Regions from separate parts of the Homo sapiens genome. Here regions 1, 2, 3, 4, 6 and 7 are each linked to region 5. Evidence: fine-mapped expression QTL. A gene starts in region 5. Each other region holds a variant in brackets. All regions are shown on one strand. Distances are between the middles of the regions.

What was found. PIP is the estimated chance that this variant, and not a neighbour inherited with it, causes the effect.
Region 1: its variant is fine-mapped to the expression of MYO7B in whole blood (INTERVAL, PIP above 0.99).
Region 2: its variant is fine-mapped to the expression of MYO7B in visceral fat (GTEx, PIP above 0.99).
Region 3: its variant is fine-mapped to the expression of MYO7B in whole blood (INTERVAL, PIP above 0.99).
Region 4: its variant is fine-mapped to the expression of MYO7B in blood mononuclear cells (TOPMed, PIP above 0.99).
Region 6: its variant is fine-mapped to the expression of MYO7B in whole blood (TOPMed, PIP above 0.99).
Region 7: its variant is fine-mapped to the expression of MYO7B in whole blood (TOPMed, PIP above 0.99).

Annotation. Positions count from the first base shown.
Region 1 is chr2:127,397,726-127,401,790 of GRCh38, reverse strand. MAP3K2-DT (MAP3K2 divergent transcript) reads right to left here. Exons shown (of 4, transcript NR_187129.1): 4 at 1,211-3,844. Among named protein-coding and RNA genes, the nearest start is that of MAP3K2, 12 kb to the right of the region's middle. RefSeq lists an enhancer at 601-1,313. The variant CT/T (reference allele first, on the strand shown) is at 2,456.
Region 2 is chr2:127,663,566-127,667,630 of GRCh38, reverse strand. All of the region lies in intron 1 of LIMS2 (LIM zinc finger domain containing 2), which reads left to right. Among named protein-coding and RNA genes, the nearest start is that of LIMS2, 9.9 kb to the left of the region's middle. RefSeq lists an enhancer at 3,727-4,065. The variant T/C (reference allele first, on the strand shown) is at 2,460.
Region 3 is chr2:127,618,802-127,622,866 of GRCh38, reverse strand. MYO7B (myosin VIIB) reads right to left here. Exons shown (of 48, transcript NM_001393586.1): 27 at 2,401-2,527; 28 at 766-885. Among named protein-coding and RNA genes, the nearest start is that of MYO7B-AS1, 10 kb to the left of the region's middle. RefSeq lists an enhancer at 2,619-2,668. The variant C/T (reference allele first, on the strand shown) is at 1,879.
Region 4 is chr2:127,479,811-127,483,875 of GRCh38, reverse strand. It overlaps IWS1 (interacts with SUPT6H, CTD assembly factor 1), which reads left to right. Exons shown (of 14, transcript NM_017969.3): 14 at 2,701-3,064. The coding sequence ends at 2,832. Among named protein-coding and RNA genes, the nearest start is that of IWS1, 45 kb to the left of the region's middle. RefSeq lists an enhancer at 3,118-4,065. The variant G/A (reference allele first, on the strand shown) is at 2,357.
Region 5 is chr2:127,533,776-127,537,840 of GRCh38, reverse strand. It overlaps MYO7B (myosin VIIB), which reads right to left and starts at 2,158. Exons shown (of 48, transcript NM_001393586.1): 1 at 2,010-2,158. RefSeq lists an enhancer at 1,276-2,126.
Region 6 is chr2:127,572,769-127,576,833 of GRCh38, reverse strand. MYO7B (myosin VIIB) reads right to left here. Exons shown (of 48, transcript NM_001393586.1): 7 at 2,772-2,914; 8 at 126-239. Among named protein-coding and RNA genes, the nearest start is that of MYO7B, 39 kb to the right of the region's middle. The variant G/A (reference allele first, on the strand shown) is at 1,835.
Region 7 is chr2:127,562,128-127,566,190 of GRCh38, reverse strand. MYO7B (myosin VIIB) reads right to left here. Exons shown (of 48, transcript NM_001393586.1): 3 at 1,925-2,038; 4 at 806-958. LOC105373609 (a long non-coding RNA gene) reads left to right here. Exons shown (of 3, transcript NR_132317.1): 2 at 1,404-1,503. Among named protein-coding and RNA genes, the nearest start is that of MYO7B, 28 kb to the right of the region's middle. RefSeq lists enhancers at 2,086-2,185, 2,496-2,545. The variant T/A (reference allele first, on the strand shown) is at 2,449.

The DNA.
Region 1 (4,065 bases), 140 kb after region 5:
CAGGGCTCTAAACCACAGAGGCCCCGGTTCAAATCCTGCCTCTTCTAAGTACAAATTAGTTGGCTTTGGGAAGTGAGTCAACTTTGCCCCGGGCTGCAGTTTCCTCGCTGTCAAATGCATGGGAGAGGGTGTGTGAAGAGTTAAAATGTATTTAGATTTCACTGTAGTGTCTCCTCCAACATGATCTCACACTCCTTTTACAGTATAAGCAGGCTGATGTCAGAGGCTGTGACTCGCCCAGGGCTACACAGTGGACAGGTGGCAGAGCCAGGAGCCAAGGGGTGGTCCACCTGCCTCCATGAACCCACGCTCCTCCCGCTACCCCTTCTGTGGCCAGGTGAGAAGCAGGGAGCTGGCACTGCCCCAACCCAGATTCCTCAGCAGGGAGGGCCTGGCCGCCTGGGCCCAGCCTGAAACCCGGGAGTCTGTTAACCTAGGCCCAGAGGCCAGAGTGCGCGGCGGTGATGAGTCACGCCAACCCGCTGCACCAGGAGACCCCTCTTCCCGGCCCACGCCCCGGCCGAGAGCTGGTTGCTGAGCAATAAGACATAACATATATAAATAGATGCGACTCCTGCTGTAACAGGGAGGCCCGATTCTTGGGCTGCTGTTTTTTCCTTGCCTCTCCTCTGCGCCCCTCGGCCTTCCTCCCAGCGGCTCCTGGTGCAGTCGGTTCCATCCTCAGCTAAGAGCTCCCAGCCCTGCGTGCCAGGGGACTGCCTTCAACAGGATGGTCCGGGATGGACGCGGGCTGGGCGTAGCTGCGCAGGGCAGGCCAGGGGCGTGGAAGGAGGCAGGGGCGCTCCGCCGGGCTGGACTTTTACCACCCGCGGGGGCTAGGCGAGGGCGGTGAAGCGGGCAGGACTGCGGGACACTGGATCAGAAGGGGCGGGTGGAGCCAGCTCCTGCGACTGGCGGGAGTGCGCCCGGTTCCCAGCAGCAGAGGGGCCTCTGCTGCCCTGCTCCCCATTCCCCTCATAAGTGACTCCTCCAAAGGGCACTTTTCTTATTCCACCTTGCATCACTGGTACTCACCTTCGCTGCAGAACGCCTTGCCAGCTTGCTTCCTGGCTGGGCCTGCTGTCTGCACAGTTGCCCTGCCCAGGTCTAAGACCGTGGGGCGTGGTCACAGGTACTATTTTAGGACTCCTCTCACCACAGGCACTGAACTTGGGGCTGCATATATATCACCCCATTACTCCTCAGAAGATACTGTAACGTAGGTATCTTTTATTGGCTGTATTGAGGCTTAATGCATCCATTTTAGGTGTACAATTTGATGAGTTTTGACAAAAGTATAGTCTTGTAACCACAATCACGATGTTCATGACACAGAATATTCCCATCACCCCAGGAAGAAGTTCCTGCCTCTTTGCAGACCATCCTCCCCTCTTGGCCCCTGGCTATATGTTTTGCCTTCACTAGAATTTCATATAAATGAAATTTATGTAAGATGTAATTTTTGTCTGGCTTCTTTCACTGAGCACAGTGCTTCTGAAATTCGTTCATGTCATCAGTGGTTTGCTCTTTTCTCTGCTAACCAGTTGATGAATATTTAGGTTGTTTATGACTATTATGAATAAAGCGTGTAGAAACATACATGTACAATTATTTGTGTGAACGTGTTTTCATTTCTCCTGAGGAAATACCTAACACTGGAATTGCTGTTTCATTAAGTTATTGTTATTCCCATTTTATAGATAAAAGATTGAAGCTCAAAGAGGTGAAGCAGCTTGCCTGAGCTCACACAGCATGGCAAAAATTCAAAGCCATGTCTGAGCTCTACACCAGGTAGTCACTTGTACAAAAAAGGTAATTTTTGGAGTCAAAGGTCCTTGATTGGTAGATAAATTACCACATATGGGCTGAATTCCACTGTATTCTGGTTTGTAGCTTGTGGAAATAGACACTGAGCCCAAGTTGCTGAGCACTACACGCAGAGAGGTCACTCTTTGAAGGCATTTCAGCAGGTGACTTCTGGGAGCTTAGGCTGCAGGTCTGCAAGGTTTTTGTTAGTGTTGTGAAGGTAGTGTTGGCCAGGTTTCTCCACTGTAAAGTCATGATTACTCCACTATAATTACTAAATTGAGAGGAGAGACATTGAGACTAAGAATCCGATTCATTGAGCTTTCACCCACTAGTTTCAATACCCAGCGTGAATTCCTAACTCCTTTCCTTTCCCATTTACTAGTTGTATTATTCTGTTAGGGAGAGCTTTTCCTTCTTCCTCAGTTATGTTTATATAACTATGTCCTCAAGGATTTTATTCTATGGAATCTAATCCATTACCATCATTGTTTTAATGTTTGATGTGTTCCAACTTTGGCCAGAAGCAGTCTCATTAAACTGACTTCTATGTCCTTTTAACGTGCTCCTGTGATTCTCTGAGCACTTCCTTACTCTCAGGTATAAGATATTCCAAGCTCTTGCTCTTCTCCTGTACCAGCCCTGGTCC[CT/T]TTTAGTAGAGAATGACATTTAGAAACCAAGATCTGGGTGTGAGATGAACTTCTGGGTACTGGGATGTCACAGCTTCTACGCCACCTCAGTCTGCAGGTTTTTAAGGCAGCAAGTGAGGTGAAAGGCAGGGCCATGAGATTGGAGTTGTAAGCTACGGACTCAGCAAAATCAGGCTGCTGGTGGTAGGATGTCTATAACAAGTGCAGTGAGCTCACTCATGGGCTCACAGGGTGGTGGAACTGGGCAGTCAGTCCAACCAGGCAGTGGTTTCTCCACTCAGAAACACCTCTGTAGGCCGGGCACGGTGACTCACGCCTGTAATCCCAGCACTTTGGGAGGCTGAGGCAGGCAGATCACCTGAGGTCAGGAGTTCAAGACCAGCCTGGCCAACATGGCAAAAAACTCTGTCTCTACTAAAAATACAAAAATTAGCTAGGCGTGGTGGCATGCACCTGTAATCCCAGCTACTTGGGAGGCTGAGGCAGGAGAATCACTTGAACCCGGGAGGCGGAGGTTGCAGTGAGCCAAAATTGTGCCACTGCACTCCAGCCTGGGCAACAGAGTGAGACTCTGCCTCAAAAAAAAAAAAAAAAAAAAAGAAAGAAAGAAAGAAAGAAACACCTTTGTAAATTTTACACATTTATAAATCTTTCAGCTCTTTCTGCCTTGCTGTAAATTACTTCCATGACAGAGGACCTGGGAGGCTGGTTTTCTAGGATGGTGGGAGGGTCAGGGACAGTGTGGGGGACACATGGAGAAGGGTGGCCTCAGGGGCTTCACATTGTGGACTGCCACGGTGATGGGAAACTTCACAGATCTCTCTTGGCAGACACTCTGCTGTCCTCAAGGCTGATCAGCTGGCTGGCTTGGGAGAGAGCCAATGACTGGAGGGGACCTCAGGAATCAGAGGTGGTGACTCATAGTGGGAGGCCACAGTCTCAGAGTCTGGTTCTCTGAAAAGAACCACGCCTTCCGATGGTGTTTGGCACCTTCCATTCTGAAGGGCCTGCTGGCTCTGGGGTCCACCGGGGCTGAGGCAGTCCTGGGCCTGTTGTGGGCAGTGGGTGGGAACAAGTGCCATCTATCTCCAGTGGCTTTCATGTGCGTCACCCTGCTGGCCTCCACCACAATCTTGGGAGCAGGATGCCTTTTTTTGTCTTCCAGACATTGAGGCTGAGAAGAGCAGGCACAGGTCTCCGCCGACTCTCGTGTTCTTCACAGTGCAGCCTGGCCAGAGTTACCTGGCCCAGCTGGCAGCCGGCGTGTGAGGCCACAGGGAGCCTGCTCTCTGAAACTGAGCAGCCTTGGCAGTCTGGAGGGCCCAGGGGACAGTGGCATTCTGCTTCTCAGGACAGACTCTGTGCAGCTGAGCTTCAGCCAGGCTAGCCTATGGTGAAGAACCAATGCCAACCTTTGTGACTTGACTTGCAGGAAGCAGTTGGGGAAGGATCTACATCGCACTGGGTCGAGGCATATGCTGAGCTGTGAGGATGAAGATAACTACCTCCTCACTCATTTCTGCAACATGGACCCCCTGGATGGTGCACTGAGAGGGCTTAGCATCCTCCAAACCGCCCAGAGAGGGGCTCAGAGGGCTTGGATGAAGGA
Region 2 (4,065 bases), 130 kb before region 5:
GCCAAATGTGTTTTCTGCATCTGTTGAGATGGTCATAGAGTGTCCTCCCTATATTCTATTGATATGGTATATTACATTGAATTTTGGATGTGAAACCAACCCTATGTTCTTGGGATAAATCCCATTTGGTCACGGTGTATAATACTTTTTATAGAGTGTTAGATTTATTGTATTTTATCGAGGACATTTGCATCTATGTGACTTTAGCATTTTATTTTGAGATCAAGATAATATTTATAGAATGAGTTGTGAAGTATTCCCTCCTAGTCTTTCTTTTCTTTTGTTTGGAAAGATTTTGTGAAGGTTTGTTGTTTTTTGTTTTTTGTTTTTTTCTCTTTTTGAGACAAGATCTCACTCTGTCACCCAGGCTGGAGTGCAGTGGCGTGATCTCAGCTCACTGCAACCTCCGCCTTCCAGGTTCAAGTGATTCTCCTGCCTCAGCCTCCTGAGTAGCTGGGATTATAGGCATGTGCCACCACACTGGTGTTTTGTATGTTTGTTTGTAGGTTTGGTGTTAATTCTAGTTAAACCTTTGATATAATTCATCAGTGAAGCCATGTCGCTCTGGCTTTACTTTGTGACAAGTTTTTTGGTTACTGTCTCAGTCTCTTTACATGTTACTGGCCTTACTAAGTGATTTGGGTAGGCTTTGTGTCCCCAACTAAATCTCATCTTGAATTGTAATCCCTATAATCCCCACGTGTCAAGGGAGAGACCAGGTGGAGGTCATTCAATCATGGGGGTGTTTCCCCCCATGCTGTTCTTGTGATAGTGAGTTCTCACAAGATCTGCTGGTTTTATAAGGGGCTCATCCCCCTTTGCTTGGTATTTCTTCCTGCCACCTTGTGAAGAAGGTGCCTTGATTCCCCTTTGCCTTCTGCCACGACTATAAGTTTCCTGAGTCCTCCCCAGCCCTGTTCAACTGTGAGTCGATTAAACCTCTTTCCTTTATAATTTACCGAGTCTCATGAAGTTCTTAATAGCAGTATGAAAATTTAGACTGATACATTTGGATTTTCTATTTCTTCTTGAGTTCGTTTTGGTAGTGTCCTTCTAGGAATCTCTCCATTTCAGTAGGTTATTTCATTTATTGGCATACAGTTGTTCATAATATTCCATTCTGCTACCTCCTTACTGGGACCACGAGCTATTATTATTCAAGGAAGCCATGGAGTTAGGGAGCAGGAATAAGGGACTAGGATAAGTTAAAACAACACAAACCTCACTGGTTTGTGTTTGTTTGTTTGTTTACCAAGATTCATCTGTTTTTCTTGACCAAATGTTCCTAGGGTTACTGAAAACCTTTGGTGGATTTGCAGAGTTCTGAAAGAGTAGATTCTGATAATTTTTGCTAGGTTTTTCATTGCTTTTATGGAGGGATGAACTTCTGGAGGTCCTTACTCCACCACTTTCTGCTGACATCACTCTCGGTGTTTTTGCAAATATCTAGAGCCAGAGCACTGAACCAAATCCCATTTGGTCATGGTGTATAATACTTTGTATAGAGTTCTAGATTCAGTTTACAGTATCTGTGGCTCCCAATCCCATCCCTGCAGCAGGACAGGCTGCAGAATGGGTGGTAAGGTTGTGCAGAGATTTGGGATTTGGGCTCAATCAGACTCTAAGCCTCTCTCAATTTCTAGCCTTCGATGTCCGCTTTTATAGTAAATATTTGTTGAATTGATTAGTACTTGGTAAACTTGTGCTTGAACTTCATTTACAGATTATGTTGCACAAAACACTTGTGGCTGTAGCCTCCTTTCCAGTGCTATATGTGACCCTTGGAGCCCTAAATAAATGTTTCCTCCTTACAGAAAACTGCGGGTCTGCATGAGAGTCCTGGATTCTAGTGTTGAGGATTTCCACATGGATGGGCTGAGTCGGGAGTGGTGAGAGGGTCTAGGCCCTATGGCATTGACTTGTAGCTGCTGTTAAGAACATTTTCGGTGTAAGTTTTCTTAAGCATTCGGCTACCTACATCAGAGAGTCAGCGGTATTCCCTATTCATTTTGGCTCCTCTGGGCTCAGCTTCTCCATGCCCTTTAGCCCCTGGGGCCACCTTTAAAAACTATTTGTTGAACTGATCAGTGTTGGGCAACTTTGGAATTGGACTACATTTACAAATTATACTGTACCCAATGCTTGTCGTCACTTGACTGCCAGGGTGCTTAATGAGTACCTCCTCCTGTTGGGACTTGCTGGGTGAGTGTGTTCCTCAGTGGCGTGTGGGCCTGGTATCTGAATGCCAGTGAGCCCCTCCAAGGCTTTCTCCCACCCTAGTTTGGGAGGATCAGTGCCCTGCTGTCTTTAGTGACGGCTGCCAGCTCTTGCTTTCAGAAGGCAGAAGAAGATACTGCTCAAGCTTTCTGACCTTTCTAGAAAGGTCTTTCAGGGAAATGGGATCAATGCTAAAGATTTCCATGAGTGCTCTGGATCTTTATTGTACTGCTGACCAGGCT[T/C]ACCTTGGTCACAGTTTGGATGCCTACCGCGGGTGTTTATGAATCACAAGTAACTTTGCCAGTCTCTCTGGGTAAAAATGCGGGGTACATGGTGCCTTCCTGGTGGTTGCCACCAGGTCCCTCTGCGTCTGCTCCCCTGGAAGCTGGAGGATTGCCTTTTCTCTAAAATAAGGACCTCTTTTGGGGTGCCTGACCATTTGTTGGCCAGATCCAGAGGATCGGCTCTGCCCTGGTCTGGGTGCCCCACGGTGATGTTTGTGGCAGAGGGTCTCAGAGAAGGGAGCAAAGCAGAATGTGGGCCTGTGTGGCTCCGGTCCTCGGTTTCCTAACTGTTGGCAGGGATCCTAAAGGCGCCAGGTCCTCCCTGTCCTCCTCAGCTGACTCTGCCCTCCTCAGTGTGTCCACGGGCACAGGCTTTCCTCCTGGCAGGTGGCAGCCGGAGACCTCCTGGGTGTCCTGCCGCCACTGTGGACCTCACCTCAGTGCTGTCTGGGGCCTTCCCAGACCAGTCCCCTCCCAGCGGGACCCAACCCCCGCCAGCCTCAGCTTTCAGGAGCTGCCCCCGCGGCGCGAACAATATCCTTTCTATTTGGAGTTGACTCTGCTGCCCTTTGGAGATCCCAGCGCGTAACGTGAGCTCGCGACCAGCGCGGGGGAGGCGCCCACACGCCCGTCCCGTCTTGGTGTCTGGCCCCAGGCGGCCGCGCCTCCCCTCCGAGGTGGTCCCATAGCCCCTGCACCAGGCGGCCCGCGCCCGCGACCTCAAGGCGGCTGCCCCGCGCCATGGCGGCCCGGCTGGGTGCGCTGGCCGCGTCGGGGCTGTACCGGCGGCGCCAGCACCGGCAGAGCCCGCCGCCAGCCACGGGGTAGGTGGCCAGGGGCGGGGCGGGTGGCGGGGACAATGGCCGGAAAGCTGCGGCGGCAGGGCAGGCCTTCCCTCGGAAACCCGACCGGGGCCCTCCGACGCCGTGGGCTCTGCCCCGGCGTCGGATGGGCCCTGGGTTGGCGACAGGGTGGGCGCGTGCGACTTTATCTAACAGGGTTGGATGTCACCTGTGATCAGCTCTCCTGGCAGGGTGCGCCCAGGGACCTATGTTAGAGACGAGGGAGCCTGTGTAGCCCCCAGCACTGCTTTCAGACGGGGGTGATCATGCTGCACTTTATAGATGAGCAGACAGGTTCTGAGCAGAGCAGACACCTGCTGGACTCACCCACCCCAAACATGGCTATGCTGTGATTTGAACCCAGGTTAGACTGACTCCAGCAGTGGGGTTCAGGATGGTCCTCAGGGCATCTCAGAGAATGAGTTGGCTCTGGATGGGGAGGTTGGGAGGGGCACGGGGATGGTGGTGGAGCCACCTCCCCTCACTCTTGGGGTCAGGGGCATGAGGAGGAGCTCCTGAAAATGTTGCCTTTGCAGTGCCGAGGGGCCAGCGGGGAAGAGAGAGCAATAGGGCTGTGACCTTGGGGTCCTTGGCATCAAGGTGACAGATAGGGACCCTGGGGAGGAGGCCAAGGCTGGGCAGAAGGGCTGGGGCGGGGGGGCAGGGAGGGAGCCAGGAACATAAGTCGCAGAGGTAGGGGAGGGCCTGGAGGACCCAGGAGC
Region 3 (4,065 bases), 85 kb before region 5:
ACCTCACAGAAGACCAGGAGCTCTTGGGAATCTGAGTCCAGGACTCGGGAACATTTTGGGGCCTTTACGTATTGTTCCCTTGTGTCAACATGCACAGCTACTGCAAGTTCACCTACAATTCCAGGGCTCGTGGGAGGGAGCCCCTGTGGGCTCGGGGGCAGGGTGAGAACAGAAAGAAGGTGCAGCGGAAGTGACCCACAGCTCCTGGTATAGGGCACCTCGGGTCACAGGGCGGGCACCTGCCGGGGTTAGGCTGGGGCCAGAGCTTTGTGTAGAGCCGGGTGCAGGTGTGCTCTCGCCACCCTGGCTGGCTGTTCTGAATGACCCTTCCTGAGAAAACAGCGAGAATTCACAGATGACACAGTTGCCAAAGCAGGTCGAGGTGGCACATGTGCCCAATAGCAATGCCACCAAGGATGCCAACCATGGTGTGACTACTGCCCTTGTCACCAAGTGAAATGCCCTTGGAGGGGAGTGCTGGAAGCAACTGGCGCACTGTAATGCTAATGAGTGGGTCCGGTGATCTTCCCCTTAGCTAGTAGGGCCCTAAAGGAATATGGATTTGGAGATGGGGGTCACGCCTGGGGAGGCCGAGCCCCAGGGGCACTCACAGGGACCACTGGCATGGGAGGTACTGCAGAGGAGATGGCGGGGCTCAGAGGACAAAGTTCTGTCCTAGGAGAAGGCACCCCATGAGCTGTGCTGGGGGTCCCTGGGGGTCTGCACCACCCCACCCTGCCCGCTCTCACCCCTGCCAGCCCCTACCTGCAGCTCCAGCCAGGTGGGGGGCTCCGCACGCACCCCATTGGCATAGGTGCGTCTCAGGCGCTCGGCACAGAAGGGGCCGTAGGTCGCCGGCCCTTGGCCGATGAAGTTCAGTAGATACTGGTGGGTGAGGAGGGGAGAAGGGAGGAAGACACTCAGAAAGGAGGCCAGTTTCTACTCACCACCCAGGTGGACTTAAGAATTATAATACTCAGTGTATAATGTGCATTGAGGGGCACCCTCACACCCGTTAGAAGGAACATGGATCAGTGTGTTTCTGAGGAGCAGTTTGGCAACACGTTTTAAACGGTGCATAGTCTTGATGTGTGCACACTCTTTGTCACAACAATGCAGGCCTATCCTAAAGGTGGATGTGTGGTTTTTGATTGTGATGGCCTCTATGGTGATGAATGACTGGAAGATGGACTCTAAATGCCCACCCCCAACCCCAGTGCCTTCTGGAACAGCGAGGCATCAAGCTGGCATTTGGGAGGTTGACACCATGAGAAAACATAATGAAGACAGTAAATGAAAAGTGCAGGGCCAGGCATGGTGGCTCACACCTATAATCCCAGCACTTTGGGAGGCCAAGGTCGGAGGATCACCTGAGGTCAGGAGTTTGAGGCCAGCCTGGCCAACATGGTGAAACCCCATTTCTACTAAAAATACAAAAATTAGCCTGGTGTGGTGATGCACACCTGTAATGCCAGCTACTCGAGAGGCTGAGGCAGAATTGCTTGAACCCGGGAGGCAGAGGATGCAGTGAACCAAGATCGCTCCACTGCACTCTGGCCTGGGCGACAGAGTGAGACTCCGTCTCAAAAAAAAAAAAAAAACAAAAAAAAAAATTGCAGAAGAGTCCATGTCCCCAACATGCTCAAGAAAACACATTGAAGTTCTTTTTGTCTCACAGAGAGATGTTATTTCTTCTGCCTTGGGGTGGGGAGGAACAGCCTGGAAGGGTTTACTGGTGTCAGGAGCAGCCTGAGTGCCATGCGCAGATGGCTTCAGTGACCGTGGTTCCTGCTGTCCCCAAAGGGACATGTGAGAAAGTGTTTTCTGTTTGATCACAAGGACCCTGTAACACCACAAAAGGCCAGAAGGAAATATTAA[C/T]GGAAGTTAGCTCTGAGTGTGGGGGTGACTTTTATTTTGGTTTTAGATGTTCTGCATTTCCACATATTACTTTTATAATCAGAATTTAAAGGCATATTAAATCAGTGAAGCTTGGGGCCACTAACACTCGGCCAACCCAGCTCCATTTTCAGTCCTAAGAACTAGAAAGAGGTGCCGTGGCACATCTCCAGGCAGGGCCCACTCCTGGACACCTGTCTTTTCAAGGCCCGTGTCATCTACCTTCTCATTTTAGTCTTGAAGCACCATCCTGACACCTGAGCCAAAGTGAAATGGCCCTGCAGACCCTGCGTAGGGGCTGGAAGGAGCCAGGAGCAGGGTCCTCTTTTCCAGATGGGGAAACTGAGTCCTGGAGAAGCATAGGCATGGCTGCCCATCTGGCCTGCAGGAGCAGGAGAAATGGGCCACGTACTGGAATCTGTGGACCTGCTCCAGGGCCAGGGGCCACCTACGCTCCCACCAGAACCTGCCCCCTGCCCGCCCTCCCTTCATGAACCCTCTCACCTTCATGAACCTCTCTGAGGGTGGGAAGCAGCCGAGGCAGAGGCTGAGCAGGATCCAGCCCCGGGCCAGGCTGCTTGTTTTGAAGTTCTCCGAGAGCTGCTTGCAGATCTGGCAGTAAATCTCATCCCTGAAAGACACAGACCATTAGGAGAGTAGGCTGGGGGCTGGAGGAGGAGAGGAGACAGGGGTACCTGGGCACACAGCTCTTGTGCACCTCTGAGAGGTCCCATATGCAGGGCACCTCTCCAGCGCCGGGGCCCTGCCCAGCCTCCTCCTCTCTCAGGACAGTGCCACCAGGCTCTGCATCCCTACTCGATTCCTCTCCCATGGCCTGTGCTCTCGGTCCTTTAGGGTGGGGCTCGGCTTCAGGAAGCAGCAGGTTCTCCAGCCACAGCCCTGTCCTCAGCAGCCGCGCCCTTTGCACAGCCCATCTGCTCCCAGATGTGCGGGATCCCCAGTCTCACGGTGATTACAGTCATTTCTCTCTCTGCCTTGAGGCCCCACCTCCCTCCCTGAATGCAGCCCCTCCCCTCCACAGCAGAGAGAAAAGTGAGGACTTCATGGGAGCCACTCAACCCCATCTCCTGACCATTCCTACTCCCACGGTCTGTGGAGCCTCCCCACTCCTGGTGGGGGTGTGTTGGGGGCGGTTCTCTCCTGCGTCCTTCCCCATGGACTCAAGCCTCTATCATGTTATAAAAGTGGCCCATTAACACCTCAAATGCCACATCTCCAGAGGCCAGCATCTTTCCCCTAATACTCAGTGGTGTGCTGGTAAATGTTTATCAACCAGCTCCCCCAAGAAGAAAAGCCCAATTCACAGCATTTGCTTATTTCTGTGGTGTACATGTTCCCACCAAAGCCAATGTCAACTGCGACACGACATCACCGAACAGAGATGGGAAGCAATGTGCATGGCTGGCTCTCTGAGTTCCTGCATCCCTCCTCTTTCTGTGGTCTACAGGCATCGCCATCAGCCATTCACCCAAACTGGAAATCTGGGGGTCATCCTGGAGCCCTCCCATCCCTTCATTCCTCCAATCCAACCAGCCCCCACCATCCATCCAGCCCCCACCACCCAGCCGGCACCCACTACTCAGCTGGCGCCCACCACCCAGCCGGCCCCCACCATCCAGCCCCCACAACCCAACCAGCCCCCACAACCCAACCACCCCCCACCACCCAGCCAGCCACCACCATCCAACTGGCCACAACCCAACCAGCCCCCACAACCCAACCACCCCCCACCACCCAGCCAGCCACCACCATCCAGCTGGCCACCACAACCCAACCAGCCACCACAACCCAACCGGCCCCCACAATCCAGCTGGCCACCACAATCCAACCAGCCTCTACCATCCAACCAGCCCCCACAACCCAACCAGCCCCCACAACCCAACCAGCCCCCACAATCCAACCAGCGCCCACCATTCAGCCAGCCCCCACAACCCAACCAGCCACCACAATCCAACCAGCCCCCACGATCCAACCAGTGCCCACATGCTACCATCTGTCTCCTGCATGTTTCCTCTGTCCCCTCCTCTTGGCTCCTGTTCCTTGGGCAATTCCTCATCAGCTCTCTCTGGATCTCTGTAGCAGCCCTGCCTGGCCTCCCAGCCCCAGGCTCCATCCTGCCACATCGCCAGGGAGGTCTTTCTGGAAGTC
Region 4 (4,065 bases), 54 kb after region 5:
GATAACGTTAATTAAAATTATACTAAATATCAGCCTGGACAACATAGCAAGACTCCATCTCTACCAAAAAATTAAAAAATTAGCCGGGCATGGTGGCATACATCTGTAGTCCTAGCTACTTGGGAGGGTGAGGTAGGAGAATCACTCGAGCCCAGGAGTTTGAGGCTGCAGTGAGCTAGAATCATGCCATTGCACTCCAGCCTAGGTGAGACCCTATCTCTAGAAAACACACACACACACACACGCACACGCACACACACACACACACACAGCCCAACCCCCCCACCCCACCACCCCCCGCCCCGACCAAATTATAATTTTGGTTATTTTCCTTCATTAAACCACCTAGTCGATTTATCATTTTTAATGGCTGCATAATGGTCTATCCTGAATATAATTTGCTTTTTTTTTTATTATGTATTTTCTTTCTTTGTAGAGATGGTTTCACCATCTTGCTCAGGCTGGTCTCAAGCGATCCTCTGGCCTTGACCTCCCAGCGTGCTGGGATTACGGGCGGGAGCCACCACACCCGGCCATGAATATAATGTGTTTATTCGTTCGTTTATGATTTCTGATTTTTTACTCCTAAATAATGTAGTAACCTGTGCTACATTGTATTTTTTATATGTTCATTTACTCCGTGGAATACTTCTAAAATAACAGTAAAATGACAAAGGAATGCCTATTTTTTCATGAACTTTTAAAAATACAGAAAGCATAAATAAAATTAATGCCATCTGTAATCCCACCACAACTTAATGTTAACATTTTAAATTATTTCTTTTTTTTTCATACATATGCATAGACAATTACTGGGTTTTTGTTTTGTTTTTTGTTTTTTTTTCAAGCGACATTGTGATTGTATTCTTTTATACCTTATTGGGTTTGTTTTTTACTTACCATGGTAAAAATCCATTTGAGTGAGCATTCTTGAGTGGTTTTGCATTGTGTCTTCACACAGTTGTACCATAATTGAAGCTGCTTTTGGCCTTGCTCTGGTAAAGCAGTGTAGCACACACTCTTAATTTCTAAGGAAGTGTAGCGTTCCCTTGATGAATCAGGAGAGAGATCATTGAACTTGGTGTATGAGGTACTCTGGTCTGTCTTTTCAAGCTTGGGGTAAGTAGGCATCTGCAACTACCAGTCATATATTTTGTAACCCACTGGCCCGTGTGTGCCCTGATTGCTGAGGCTAGACAGATCCATCAGGGCTTAGACAGTTAGTGAGGGTCCTGGGAGTAGGCGAAGGGAAGTCCAGTTAATGTGTGAAGCTGCTGGGAATTGTGTAGTTGGCAGAGATTTGAGCAGGTAAAGCTTCCGATGTGGACCAAGTACAAGTACTAAGATCACGGCACATCCTCTAAAAGGAAGTCAGATATTTGGGACTGTCCAGGAAATCTGGGAGATAGTGTGATGGTGGCATAGCTCTTTCTCATCTGACACTTTTTATGCTTACTCAGAGTACGAATGCCAAGTATTGAGACGATACAGAATAATATTTGAATTGAGATATTCCTAGAAAGACAGGTCAACATGGCTCTTGGTCAAGAATGACTTAGAGTTCCTTGCCTAGTGCTCAGCTGGCTTCATGTCATAGTTGAGGCTGGGTCCACAGGTGGGATAAGATTCCACCAAAGCTCACCAGGCTGGTACTGACCCCAGAGTGTCTCCCAGGCCCTACCTTATTTTAGCATTCTTTTGAATTGAGTTTCAGAGGTGATTCAGTAGTAAATGTATGGGGAGAAGAATTAGAAAAACCCATCTCTTTTTAAGCAGTCATCATTCTTAAACATCTGAATTGTTTTACAACAGAGTCAGCAAACCTTTCTAGCATTTCTAAAAGATGGCAGTTTCTTGGAGACCACATCTTTGCAAGGCAGTATTTTCAAAATATAAAATAGCCCCCAAACCAAACCTTTAAACATGAAGGGCAAATGGGTAAAGACTTAATATTCTTTTTGTGTCAAGTATACTTAATGTAAATCTAGTTGCTTGTGAAGTAGTAAAATAGTAATAGCTCCTATTATTTTGAGCACTGACTATATGTGCTCAGCCTCTGTGCTTGGATCTGACATCACTATCTCATTTCCTTCTCTCAGCAGTTCTGGAAGGAGTACCTACCCTGGGTATGCTTTGCCCAGGGTCACAGAAGTTACTGAATTAGAGCAGGGATTCACCCCAAGTGTAAAAACTCAAGAGCTCCTGCACTTAGGGGTTTACTTCACTAATCATCTAACCTCATTTATTATGCTTAAGGCTTTTTCTCAGCTGACCTGACTTTGCTTTAGGTCATTCTTTTTTATGCCAGCACTGTTTGAAAGTGCATGTCAAGCGGCTAGCTCCACATTTGGTCTTC[G/A]AAAGGGAAACGCATGCAGTTAAAACGTAATGTACATGATGGAATTGGGAGGATCATAGTCTCAGTTTCCCCCCCCCTTTCTCCCATCTAGGAGACCTCCATGGACTGCAGCAAAATTAAAAATAAAGCACAGACAACAGAATTATTCTTCACTGAGAGAGTTTAATATGCGTTTCTAACACCATCTATACTTGCTTTGTTGTTCTTGAGGTCATCAACACACATTCTGGTTATTCCAGAGCTAGAAGCTCTTCTGGTTGCTAACTCAGTTATAAGAAGATGAAAGACATAACTAGACTTACGTATTTCAGTAGTTTGCTCTTTAATTTTTCCCTTACTCTTAGTTTCAGGCGACCTCCAAGAAGGGTATCAGTCGACTGGATAAACAGATGAGAAAGTTCACAGATATAAGGAAAAAAAGCAGATCTGCACACGCAGTGAAAATCAGCATTGAGGGCAACAAAATGCCATTGTGACCTTGCCTGGAATGTGTCCCCATCTCTACTCTAAGAAATGCGCAATGGACTCTTTGGAGAAAGAAGATATTTTAAAACATTTTTAGTGTGTCTGTAAATGGTTCAGCGTGTATCAGATGTTGTCATAGGACTCACATTTCTCTCAGTTATATTTAAAACCGTTGTGTACTTTGTACAAAGGAATACTAGTCATACTTCTATAAACTTTACACAATAAAATTTCATTCTGGTTTTTGGGGGGCTGTCTCTTCATTTCTTAGAGGATACATTCTTAATAGGGGCAAAGATTGTTTCTTGTTGTGTGGGAAAAAATCTTATGATATTATAGGGGTTTGTGACCCTTAGAGGTTCAATCCTCCCTCATTGTGGTATAATGAGGAATTTGTGTGGCCTTTGCCCCTGGTTGCTGACAAGGAATGTCTAAAACACTTGTGGTTTCCTGAGTGATAGAGCGTCTCTTGTTATGCTAACGAGGTGACTGTATGGTGGGCTTTAGGGTGGAGGCTGGTAACCAGAAACAGCTACTACAGAGGGTTGGGCCAGCAGGACCCGGGAGATTGAGACGCAGTCAGTGACCTGTTTGATTTAATCAACCATGCCTGCCAAATGGGACCTGATGAAGAGCTCTGGACCCCACAGCTCAATGACGCTTCTTGGTTGGTGAAAGCATTGGTGTGCTGGGAGGGAGAGGATTCCCCTCCATGAGGACAGGGGCACAGAAGCTCTGCCTTCCCTCCCAGACCTTCCCTTATGTATCCCTTCATTTGACTGGCCCTCCTAATTCATATCTTCTGTAGTAAAACTAATCATAGTGTTTTCTAGGGAAGGATAGTGCTTTCCTGAGTTCTGTGAGTCATTTCAGCAAGTTCTTAAACCTGAGAGGTTTATGAGAACCCCAAATTTGTAGCTGGTCAGAAGCGACAGTAGCCTGGATGCCTCACTTGTGGCTTGCATCTGAAGTGGGGGCAGTATTGTGGAGGACTGACCTCTTAAACCCGTGGAGTCTGATGCCAGCTCTGGGTGTGTCGTATCAGAATTGAATTGCAGTACCTCAGTTGGGGTGGAAATGGAATACCAACAAAATCTTATTAATGTGTTTCTCTTATTTGGGATAATTATTTTGATTTTCATTTTTCTCTGGGATGGGGGCTTATAACAGAGAAAAGATCAAGAAATACTACTGTCTTCAAGGAAATATGGATATAACTGAAAATCACTATGCCGAAAGCTTAG
Region 5 (4,065 bases):
TGCTGAGGCCTGGGCATGTGCAGGAGATGGAAAAACCCCAGAGAAACCCAGCCCAGGCTCTCGAGGAGCTCATAGTCCAGTGGCCTTGGTCAAATCCTTCCTTCTCCTCCTCCTCCTTCTCCTTCTCCTCCCCCTCCTCCTCCTCCTCTTCTTCTTCCTCCTCCTCCTATTCCTTCTTCTTATTCTTCTATAGAGATGGAGTCTCCCCATGTTGTGGGCTCAAGCAATCCTCCCACCTCGGCCTCCCAAAGTGCTGGGATTACAGGCATGAGCCACCACCATGCCCAGTCTCCTTTACCCTTCTTCATCTCTTCTGTGAAAAATGTGCTAAGATTCTGGCTCTTCCTCCCTGAACAGCTTGGTATGTGGACCAAGAATGGGCACACAAACATCATTTAAATACATGTGTTAAGTAAAATGTATGGAGGCCATTGGTTTTGTCTGAGCTCCTACACAAGGCCAACAGACCAGACCAAAATGGAGTCACTCATGCTGAAGTTCCACACCACCAGGCCCAAACGAAGGTTATCTGACCTTCCAAGAATCAGGAGAGAGACAATAGCTGGAGCCCCAGACAGGCCAGTTTCAGCGGGCATGATAAGGAAGTTCCCTCAGCTCTATCCTTTACAAGGAAAATAAATTGAAATGACTAATCCCCTTTTGTTTTCTGTTTCTCTCAGCCCCATTCTGTCTATAAAGCCAAACTCCTCTGCTCGGCTCATCAGATCATTCATTGTATTCTATAAGTGGGGTGTTGCCCAATTCTAGAATTGCAAATAAAAGCCAATTAAGATCTTTAAGATAAATTTTTTATAATTTTGTCTTTTGACATATGTAAAACAGGAAGCAATATCAACACATATAGGTCATCCCTGTGGTGCCGCCTCTCCACAGAGCCCCGTGCTAGAGCTGTGGATGCAGCAGGCCCCAAGACAGCCGCCTGGGGAGGATTCTCTTAGAGGTGGCATCTGAGGACAGACGTAGGGCCCCCAGCAGGTCCAGGGAGATGGGGTGGGCTGATGAGCTGAGTGGTTCCTAACAATGATTCACTGAGGGTGTGTGTGAATCTCTGAACTAAAATCCTAAACAAAGTGCAGGGTTCTGATAAATTAGAGCAAAATTCAAGTCCAGGGTTACAAAGTGGAGCCTGAAGGGGAGGCCTCGTCATGGAGAATTTGGGGGATCTGGGTTGGGGGCCCCACACCCACCAGCTGTCTGACCTGGGCCAGCTCTCACAATCTCTGTGTCTCAAGTTTCGTCCTCTGTGAAATGGGGATGGGACACACACCACCTGGACAGCTCAAGGGGGACAGCCCATGTGAGCCCCGGTGCGGTCCCTCTCCTCAGCCACCTCTTCCCCCACCCCCCCCCCCACCACACCCCAGACCTGTCCTGCCTCTCCCTAGGGTCCCAGCCTTCCAGAGGTGACTAAAGCCAATTGCCCAAGGTACATGGGTAAGGCGGATAAGCCTGGGCTTTGGAGTCGAATCCGGCTCTGCTTCTTCCCGTGGGCACCTTCGCTTCCATGGTCCTCAGTCTCTGTGTCCATAAAATGGAGGCAATTCCACCACTGTGTTGCGAGGACGCAGTGGGATGTCACACACGGCACAGCTGACATCTGGCAGGGGCTCATCATGGGACCCAGGCTATCCATGATGTCCCATGATTCCACAGTGAGGCCCTCTAGCTGTGAGGAGGCTTCAGGGTGGGAGCAGCCTTGGCACCTGCCGTTCCCCTCCTGCAGGGAGTTTGCCCTTCTACAGCAGAGGGCTAGACAGCTTCTCCCCCTCCTCCTCCTCCTCAGCCCCCCAGGTGCTGCCCTTCAGCCCGATGGACTGAGTCCCCTGCTGCGGTTTCTGGTTTCCAGGCTCCTGAAGGGCTTCTCCACTCTCTATCCCTCAGACCTGTTCCATCTTATTTCCAGGGGACCTGCCTCCTGCCCAGCGACCCTCTTCAGAGAGGTGACCCCCTACTCCCCGCTGGCAGACACGCCCCCGGCACGCCCTTACCTTGTCAGGATGGGGGTCTGGCTGACTCCCCTTCCCCTCCACCCTGGGCACCCTGAAAGAGCCAGGAAAGGAGGCAATGTTGGGACTCCGGGTGTGTCAGGGAGTAAGGGACAGAGGAAGAAGAGGTAGGGCTCCAAGAGGAAATGACTGGGAGCACTCTGGGCCCACGTAATTTATTACAGGACTTTGTCCCTGGGCTCCAGGCACTTCCACTCCCACACGCCTCCCTCAGCCCCAGCTGGCAGAGCCTCATGATACCTGCTCTTTAACCCAGGCCCCTTCTGCAGAGCAGCGATGCATGCTGCCCGGAGGCCACCAGGGTTTGCAGTCTGTGCACCTGCTCTGGCCACCAGCCAGATCCCATGGTGACAGTCAGCTGACCATCCGGGGGCTCAGCATCTTCCCAGGTGCTGCATGGCAGGAGCTCTGCCCCCAAGCACCCCAAGCTCTAATTGAGGGTGGTAGTATAATATAAAATACAGTATATTTGGTCCTTGTTCCCGGTTGGTGTCACAGAACTCCTAAAACCCTTAGAATTTCCAAAGTGATCGTCGGGCATGGTGGCTCACGCCTGTAATCCCAGCATTTTGGGAGGCCGAGGCAGGCGGATCACAAGGTCAGGAGATCAAGACCATCCTGGCTAACACGGTGAAACCCCATCTCTACTAAAAACACACACACAAAAAAATTAGCTGGGCGTGGTGGCGGGCGCCTGTAGTCCCAGCTGGAGGTTGAGGAAGGAGAATGGCGTGAACCGGGGAGGTGGAGCTTGCAGTGAGCCAAGATCGGGCCACTGCACTCCAGCCTGGGTGACAGAGCGAGACTCCGTCTCAAACAAACAAACAAACAAAAAATTTCCCAAGTGATCATCTCATAATGAGTCCGTTTGATAACACCTGAAGTTATGCTGAGGAGGTGACCATGTGGGGGCCCTACCTAGCCTCAGCATGGGGTCAGTCACCAGAAAGACCTAGTGAATAGAGGGTTGGAACTTTCAGCCCCGCCTACTGACCTCTGGGAAGGTAAAACTCTTGAACAAGATTTGACAAGCTTCCACACATCTGAGGTCCCTGGGGGGTGGCATGCGGGAGAGGGCATGGAAGCTCCATGACCTTCCCACACAACTCACCTGTGCGTGTTTATTCGGCTGCTCATCTGTAATCCTTTGTAAAATCTTTTCCCACGAACTGGTCAATATGAGTGCCGTCCTGAGTTCCATGAGCTATGCTAGCAAATCCAACCTCAGGTGTGGGGCATGGGAACCCCGATTTATAGCCAATTGGTCAGAAGTATAGGTGGCAACCTAGGACTTGAGACTGCATTTGAAGTGGGGCAGTTTTGTGGGACTGAGCCCTTAACCTGTGGGATCTATGACTCCAGGTTGACAGTGTCTGATTGAATTGAATTATAGGACATCCAGACGGAGTCTGCTGGAGAACTGCTTGGACACCTGGTCAAGAGAGTGTTCTGTGTTGAGTGTGAAAGGAGCATACACCTGGGACATGTCTGGGGCCATCAGGAAGCCTTAGAGACAAAGGCCATCAGACAACAAGGTTCCCAGGAGGGTACCTGGCAACAAATTGGGCAGGCTTGGGCTGGCACTTGATCAAGGGGGATTTGGGCTTAAGGCAAATACAGACTGTTTAGAAGGGAAGTGCAACCGCAGTGGGCCCTGGGTGGGGTCAGACTGGAGGGGCCAGGCAGTCCCTGGAAGTGAGCAGGAGGGCGAGGGGAGCTCATTTATGCAAGGCTTTGAAGGCGGGTGGATAATAGGGGCAGGTAGTTACCTGGTCAGCCACAGGCCTTGTGTTGGGTAAAAAAGGGGTCTGGTCATCCTTACAGTTGGCCCAACTAGAGCCAATCAGATTCCTTTCTTTTCCTTGGACTTGGAGGGACTTGGGAACTGCAGGCAGAAATGTGGGAATGAGCCATCGTCTTTTAGAACTGAGGTCAAGGCAGGGTGGCAACCCTGAACATGGACCTTTCGTGGGGACACAGACCAAGCGGTGGTGGGAGAGAAAAGGAGAGGTGGACAAGCTGCAGAGGTGGAGACCCA
Region 6 (4,065 bases), 39 kb before region 5:
CCAGCCCCGCCTCAGGGGCCCGGCCAGCGTTGGGCTTCTCTGCAGCTGTCGCGGAGGGTGGAGCGGCACAAGCTCTTTTTCCTCCCTTCCACTGGCTACTGGGAGGCGGCAGGTGGGCAGCTCACCATGGTCAGGTAGTGGTACTCGGAGGGCGTGCCCAGGCTCAGCAGCTGCTTGTCCTCAGCACTCACCCCCATGAGCATGCAGTAGAAGATATGGTAGTTCCGCTCCTCGGGAGCCTGGGAGGGAGGGAGGGCATTCCAGACAGATTCATGAGCCATTCCCCTGAGGCCTCAGGGCCTCAGACTGCCTCTGCCCAGCCCAGCCCTGGCCTCCGCTCCACATCTCTCAGCCAGGAGCAGCTCTGGCACTGACCCAGGGCCAGCCTGGCTTGGTTGCTGTCCCTGTCCCGGGCCTCCGCGGCTGTCTCATCCCTGCCCTGAGAACTCCATTTCCCTGCATCTTGACTGCTCCTCGAAGCCCTGACACTGCTGTGCCCAAAGTCTCCAGGCCAGGAGTGATGGCACAGAGTCGGGGCTCTCTTATAGTCCCACAGTCTTCACAGGCACTTAGTGGCCCACGAGAGATCTGACAGCCACGGGGCTCCCTAGGCCTTCAGTATTTTTTTTTTTTCCGAGAGAAGGTCTTGCTCTGTCACCCAAGCTAGAGTGCAGTGGTGCAATCTCAGCCCACTGTAGCCTCGAAGTCCTGGATTCAAGCCATCCTCCCACCTCAGCCTACCAAGTAGCTAAGATCACAGGCACACACCACCACGTCCGGCTAAGTTTTGTATTTTTTGTAGAGATGGGGTTTTGCCATGTTGCCTAGGGTGCCTTCTGTATTTTTTAAAACACTATTTATAAATGCATTCTCATACAAATCAAACAATCTGAAGCATATGCAGTAGTGTTAAAAGATGGGAGTCTCAGTTGGGCTGTAATCCCAGCAGTTTTGGGAGGCTGAGGCGGGAAGATTACTTGAGCTCAGGAGTTTGAGAGCAGCCTGGGCAATATAGTGAGACCTCACCTCTACAAAAAATAAGAAAATTAGCTGGATGTGGTGGTAAACACCTCTAGTCTCAGCTACTCAAAAGGCTGAGGTGGGAGGATCAAAAACAAAAAAATGAGAGCTCCTTTCCATCCTGCCTTCCCCTTTCTTAAATCCCCTCCTCCCCGCCCCAGAACCTAGACATGTTTTTAAAAAAACATTTACTTATAGTATATCTATAAATAGTTATCTCTTTTCTTTTCTTTGTTTCTTTTTTTTTACACAAAACATATTTGTGGTTCTGCTACTTCCTTTTTTTTCACCTAAACATATCTCTTGGTGATCCTTTACATTGACATGGACAGACCGCCTCCTCTGTAGTATAGATATGCCGTAATTTTAAATTCTTTCTCTTTTCTTGGGCAGGCCTTGTTTCTCACCTGCTTTAGAAATTTCCTGCCCATTTCAGGGTATCATTTTGGGTGACAAGTTCTATGAACTCAGCAACCACTATATCAAGAAATAGGAGCTTCCAGACAGGGCAGAGAGACTCTGCCATCTGCTGGCTCTGTGACCCTGGACAAGGGGCCGAACTTAACTGGACTCAGTTTTCTCATCTGTACAATAGGGATAAAGAGACCTACCTCTCATGGTTGTGAAGGTCAAATGAGATAAAACAGGAAAAGTATAGCACCAGGTCGGAGGGTCACTAAATGTGACCTTCCTTCTCAGCTTGTCACAGTGCGGAGGCATCTGTCCCTCTCACACAGCCACAGCCCCTCTGTTGGTGGCATTCTCCCCTCTGGACCCCTTCTGTGTGTGTGCACTCATTTGCACACATGCATGT[G/A]TTAGGTGTTATGCCATCATACGAGAGCACCCCCTTACACTCACACACACACACAGGTGCATTAATTCTGCTGTTGTGGGTGCCATGTGTTGGGATTCCTACCATTTGGGACTGGCTACATGATCGCCCAGTGCAAAAGGAAACCATGGGCCCTCTTGCTAAAAAGCTAGTAAGAATTTCAAGGTGGCAATAGCAGAGCATGAAACCAAGCATGGGGCCCCCTGAGCACAGGGCCTGGTGTGACAACACAGGCCACATGCCACTGTACTTCCTGGCCATGTGGTATTTGGGATACTGTCATCTGTGTCTTTCTGCCATGTCCCCTAACATACCTGAAGATACGGCCCACCCAACTAGCCTAGTCTCAGAATTAATTCTAGTAGGGATGAGGAATGGTAGGCACCAAAGAAAGAAGAAATGTATGTGAATGGAAAATTCAAAATGGAGAAAAGTCTTTTTTGAGACAGAGTTTCACTCTGTTGCCCAGGCTGGAGTGCAGTGGTGCAATCTCAGCTCACTGCAACCTCTGCCTCCTAGGCTCAAGCAATTCTCATGCCTCAGCTTCCCAAGTAGCTGGGATTACAGGCGTGTGCCACTGCCTAGCTAATTTTTTTTTTCATATTTTTTGTAGAGGCAGGGTTTTGTCATGTTGGCCAGGCTGATCTCAAACTCCTGGCCTCAAGTAACCCACCCGCTTTGGCCTCCCATAAGTGCTGGGATTAGAGGCGTGCGCCACCAAGCCCTGCTCAAAATGGAAAAATTTCTATCATTTGCTGTCCTGGAATACTGGGGAAGGGCCCTCATTATCCAGTGAGGCCTGTGGGTTCTGGGAGGGCCCTTGGGGAAGAGGGGAGGAGAGGTGAGAGTGGGAAAGGGGCCCCTCTTGGAAACCTCCCCCATTCCCTCAACTCCCGACCTGGGAAGGGGGAGGCCTCACCTGCCGGCAGACCCGGGACTTCTCCAGGAGAAATTGCTCGATGCGCGCGCCCTCGATCACCCCGCTGGGGTTAAAGTAGATGTCAATGTACTTCCCAAAGCGGCTTGAGTTGTCGTTGCGGATTGTCTTGGCATTTCCAAAGGCTGAAGGTAAGCGGGCGATGCCCATGATGGGAGCAGAGAGGAGAAAATGTAATTTGAGTGGGATCATGTAAGAGGGCTTCTCAGAGGAGGTGGCCAAGCCTCGAATTGAAGAATGGGCACGGCTGCACCAGACAGTGACGGAAGCCAAGCGCCCGCTAAGAGGAAGACAAAAATGCAGGGAAAACCTCGGAGGTCAGAAAAAGCATGGAGTGTGCTTGCAGACGCAGAAATCTTGTCAGAGTGTGGGATGCAGGAGGAAAGCAGTGGAAGGTAGACAGAACTAGTTAGTAGGTAGGGCCAGGTGGCACAGAGCCTTAAATGCCGGGCTCAGAACTTGGGCAATCATTCTGCAGTAATAAGGGAAGCAGTAAAGCTTCTGAGAGAGTGTGGGAGCAGATTCACAGCTTAGAAAGATGGCTCAGGTTGCAGGGCTGAGGCTGATACGGAGAGGCCAAGCCGGCATGGGGAGTGCCAACAGCGTGTCCAGGCCAGGGCACACGGAAGTGGTCAGTCTTTTTTGTAAAGCTGTTTCTGCAAGTTTTCTGATGTGATCCACAGTAAGAAAGATATTTTGCATTACATCCTAGTATATACACATGTCCACCTGCACACACAAAGTTAGAACAAAATACTCAGTACTAGTTCTTATGAAGAGTGACGTGCTGGGGTGTTTCTATTCTATGATATTTGATTTGTTCTAGAAGACTGATTTTATGGCCCATTAATGGTTAGAATGCAGTTTCAGAATACCAGCATCCAGCATAGTCCCATGAAACGAAGGAAAAGGGTTCCTTGGGGAAGTAGGTTTAGGAAACACGGCACCCTGTCTCTCTCTCGAGGAATCCCAATGCACAGCAGAGCCTCTGAGAAGTGCCACCATTACGAAACCTGTTTAACTTATTGAACCCAGTGTGGCCATCATGGGGGCGACTGGTTGGGTGTCTCTTTAAGAAAGAATCTGATGCAGGCAGTTTTTTTTTTTTTGGTACTAACTGACAGGCTGATCTTAAAATGTACTATATATGGAAAGGTAAATTACCTAGAATAGCCAAGTTTGAAAAAGAATAACAAAATTGGAGGGCACATGCTATCTGATTGCACCGCTTCCTATAGAAATCAAGACAGTGTAGCACTGGTGAAAGAATAGACAG
Region 7 (4,063 bases), 28 kb before region 5:
CACTGCCCCTCAGGGGGTGCGGCAGGCAGAGCCTGCACAATAAGCCACATGACCATGGTGTCCTGGTTTTCACTTTAGGAAAGGAGAGGACGTGCCCTCTGGCTTCAGGCTGTGCCACCAGATGAGGAGTGCAGGCAAAAGCCCTTTGGAAGCACAAGCTGCTTTCCTCTGAGCAGCCCAGAAGGGCCAGTCAGAACCAAGCTAGCCACCCCTCCAGACCAGAGAGGCCCAGGCAGGCAGTGGCTTCTGCAGGCCACACCTACTTAGGCCGAACTGGTGTCGGTTTTGGAATACCACCTCCCCTGGAAAAATCTGCATTGGAACCAGGATGAGAGCTTCAGGCTGGAGTGAACCTCCATCCAGGCCAGGTTTGCACGGAGGGCCCACATCCATCCCCATGGCCCCCTCGTCTGGTGAATCAGGACCTTGGGATCTGGGCTGTCACGGGCCTCACTCTTGGGAGGCCAGGGGCTTTCTGTCTAGTGACTCTGTCTCTACAACATGCCTGGGAAGGAGAGGGCAGAGGATGATGGCCACCTGATGGCCATCTGCAGCCCTCACTGAGCAGAGACTGTGCCAGGCACTGTGCTGTCACTCTACGCATTGGCTTCCTCCCCTCCAGGGTGGGATCACCCTCCTTGTTTGGGACTGGGCAGCAGAGATTGGGAAAAGTTAGGCACCTCGCCCACCTCCCTCAGTGAGGGCATGGGGGGCAGTGCCCCCTGTGCATCATTTTCTTCTCCCTGTCCAGGAGGTTGGCACCTGTGAGGGGCTCCCCTGTGGACACAGGGCTGGGGAGACTCACATAGATCTTGTGCTGCTGGTAGCGGATCAGGAGGTTGTGCACCATGCCTGCCTCGTTCAGGTCCCCCAGGCGGATCATGTCGTCCACACCCTGGACTGAGTTGGGGTGCATGGGACTGAGGACACCAAAGTCCTCTGCTCGGATCCAGTGTTCCTGGAACAATGGGTGCAGACTCCCCTGAGGGGTGGCCTCCATCCCCATGGCCAGCCTGCCACACCCTCCCCTCCAAGTTCTCAGCAGCAAGGTGACCTTCCGGGTCATGGATCAGCTGACCTGGGGCAGTGGCCAGCCTCCGGCCAGGGTCAGTCTATGACAAGGGTCAAGAGACTCCTGTGGCAGGATCCGGTCCATCTATGGCTGGGTCAGCATGGGTCTAGGGCCCAGGGTTAGGGCGTAGCTGGGGCTAGGGCTGAATTTCAGACCAGGGACAAAGGAGCTTATAGCCAGAAGTTAGATTTAGGGTCAGGTTGCAGCTGGGAGCCTTGCAGGTTGTTGGAATAAGACTGTGCAAGTAAAAGCTTTTTTAAAAAACTACAGTGTCACACAAATAGAAGATATTGTTATTATTTTACTGACTTCCATCATCTGGAACTCACAGGCCACAGCCTAGAAACTTCTCCTTGGAGGCTAAGCCTGCAGCACCCAGCTGAGCACAGAGGACAATCTGAGGAGCTAAGTGACCGGCTGGACACTCCATTGTAAGCCCTTCCCTGCTCACCACCTAGCTGGCCCTGACCCCTCTGGTGGACGAGCTGGTCACTCCCGGGCCACTCCAGCTTGCTGGCCTCTTACTTGTGCATTTTGCCCCGTCCTGCCCCTCCACACACCTTCCTCACCCACCTTTCCCCCTTGCCCGTTTCATTTTGCAAACTGGCTTTCTGCCCCTCTGGCCCTTCCAGAGCCCCTTTCCCACTTCCCACTTCCTTCTTGAAACGTTCCCCAGGACACACAGGCCATGTTCTCCATGGCAGGACTCCACCGTGATCTGTCCTGCCACCCAGGTCCCCACTTGGCCTTGGAGCCCCTGGTGTTGGGGAGAGGCTCCACAGGGCGGGGAGGGCTCCAGGGCCCTGGATGTGAGGGCAGGGCAGGGCCCAGAGGAAACCCCAGAACACTGACCTTGCCCTCGTCATCTTCAACCAAGACTTTGCCTGGCTTTGCCTCTTTGATGATGCCCCCGATGGCCACGCCGGTCTTGTGGGTGGAGGGAGGCTCCAGCCACACGTGGTCACCCTGGAGGGCAGACAGAAGACAGTGGTGTGATCCCCGCTCTCTCTTCCCCTCCCTGCTGGATACTTACTTCTCTTCGGGGCTATGCCTTCCAGCCCAGAGCTCCCAAGGTGGCTGGAGCTTGTCTCTCCTTTCCTCTCCTCCCCTCTCCCATCTCTCTTTCTCCCTGCTCACTGGGCAGGTACCAAGCGCCTGTACAGCTTCTCTCCATGTCTTTGTCTTGTCTGGGACAATAAGCTGACAAGAACAGGAGCTCTGGTCTCACCACAGCACCTCTCATAATGAAAAAGAAACTTGGCTACTATTTAGGAAGGTGGTGTGGCTGAGTGGTTAAGAGAGAAAGTGCTTCTCAAGCTTGATGACGGTAGCAAGAGTTGCATCCTCTCAGAAATCACCCACAAGCAATAGGAGGA[T/A]GAGAAACAGAAACGAGCACTAGAAGACGCAGGAGGAAGCTGAAAAGGTGGCCCCAGCTGTAGGTTCCAGAAAGAGAGGGCAAAGTTCACTTCTCCAAGGCAGGAGCCCATCCTGGCATGCAAAAGCAGCATGTCTTGCTGCAGCAGTAGGAGCAAGGGCACAAGGTGGCAGGCGGAGCTTGCCTGGCCTGTCTTGGTTCTAGGAAACACCATATTTGCAGGTCTTCCATATTTGCAGGAAGCAGTCTCTCTGTGGGGTGGGAAAAGAGAAGTCTTGCCCTGTGAAAAGCTCTGCAGTACCCAGATCTATTGGGTGGGAGAAGCCACTACTAAAAATTCACATGTGAGATTTCTGCTAGCCTGCACTGTGGCATTGACACCTCATGAACCTCCTTCTAATCCAAGAAAGCTCACCCCATCTGAAGAGAAGTAATCCAAAAGGAACCAGCACAGTTCTGTGTTCGGAGGTACTGAAACCCAAGAGGAGGAAAGGAGCAAATAATACTCAGCAAAAGAGAAATAACTGCCACAGAGCAGTAGGAAGTTGTGACCAAGTATTTCACCATAATTTACAAAAACTGACCAAAGAGTAGGTCAGAGGCAAAAGAGCCCAGGAATTAGATGGGGGACAACTGAGAAAAAGGATGAGACATGAGTTGGCAGAGCCGAATGAAAAAATTGAGGAAATGAAAGAAATGCAGACCAGAATGAAAGCAAAATTGGAAACAGCAGGAGAACATACCCTGATTATAAAAACATGGGAAGAATCATAAAAGGTAGGAAGGAGAAAAGTGAGCAAAATGATATAGAATTTGTTAAAAAATTAGAATTAGGGGCTGGATGTGGTGGTTCACACCTGTAATCCCAGCACTTTGGGAGGCCAAGACAGGCCAGGAGTTTGAGACCAGCCTGGCCAACATGGAGAAACCCTGCCTCTACTAAAAAAATGCAAAAATTGGCTGGGTGTGGTGGCTCATGCCTGGAATCCCAGCACTTTGGGAGGCTGAGGCGGGCAGATCACAAGGTCAGGAGTTCAAGACCAGCCTGGCCAACATAGTGAAACCCCATCTCTACTAAAAATACAAAAATTAGCCGGGTGTGGTGGCAAGCACCTGTAGTCCCAGCTACATGGGAGGCTGACGCAGGAGAATTGCTTGAACCCGGGAGGCAGAGGTTGCAGTGACCGAGATCATGCCACTGCACAACAGCATGGGCAACAGTGCAAGACTCCGTCTCAAAAAAAAAAAAAAAAAAAAAAAACAATAAAACCCCACAAAAATTAGCTGGGCGTGGTGGTGGGCGCCTGTAATCCCAGCTAATCAGGAGGCTGATGCAGGATAATTGCTTGAATCTGAGAGGTGGAGGTTGCAGTGAATTGTGATCGTGCCACTGCACTCCAGCTTTGCTGACAGAGACTCTGTCAAAAAAGAATACATAAATAAAAAATAAAATAAAATTAGAATTAGGAAGAAGATCGCTATAGAAGATGGGCAAAAATACAAGTAAACCTCATTATATGGACTGAATTGTGTCCCTCCAGAATTCATATAGTGAAGCCCCAATTCCTGACATGACCATATTTGCAGATAAGGCCTTCAAGGAGGTAATTAAGGTT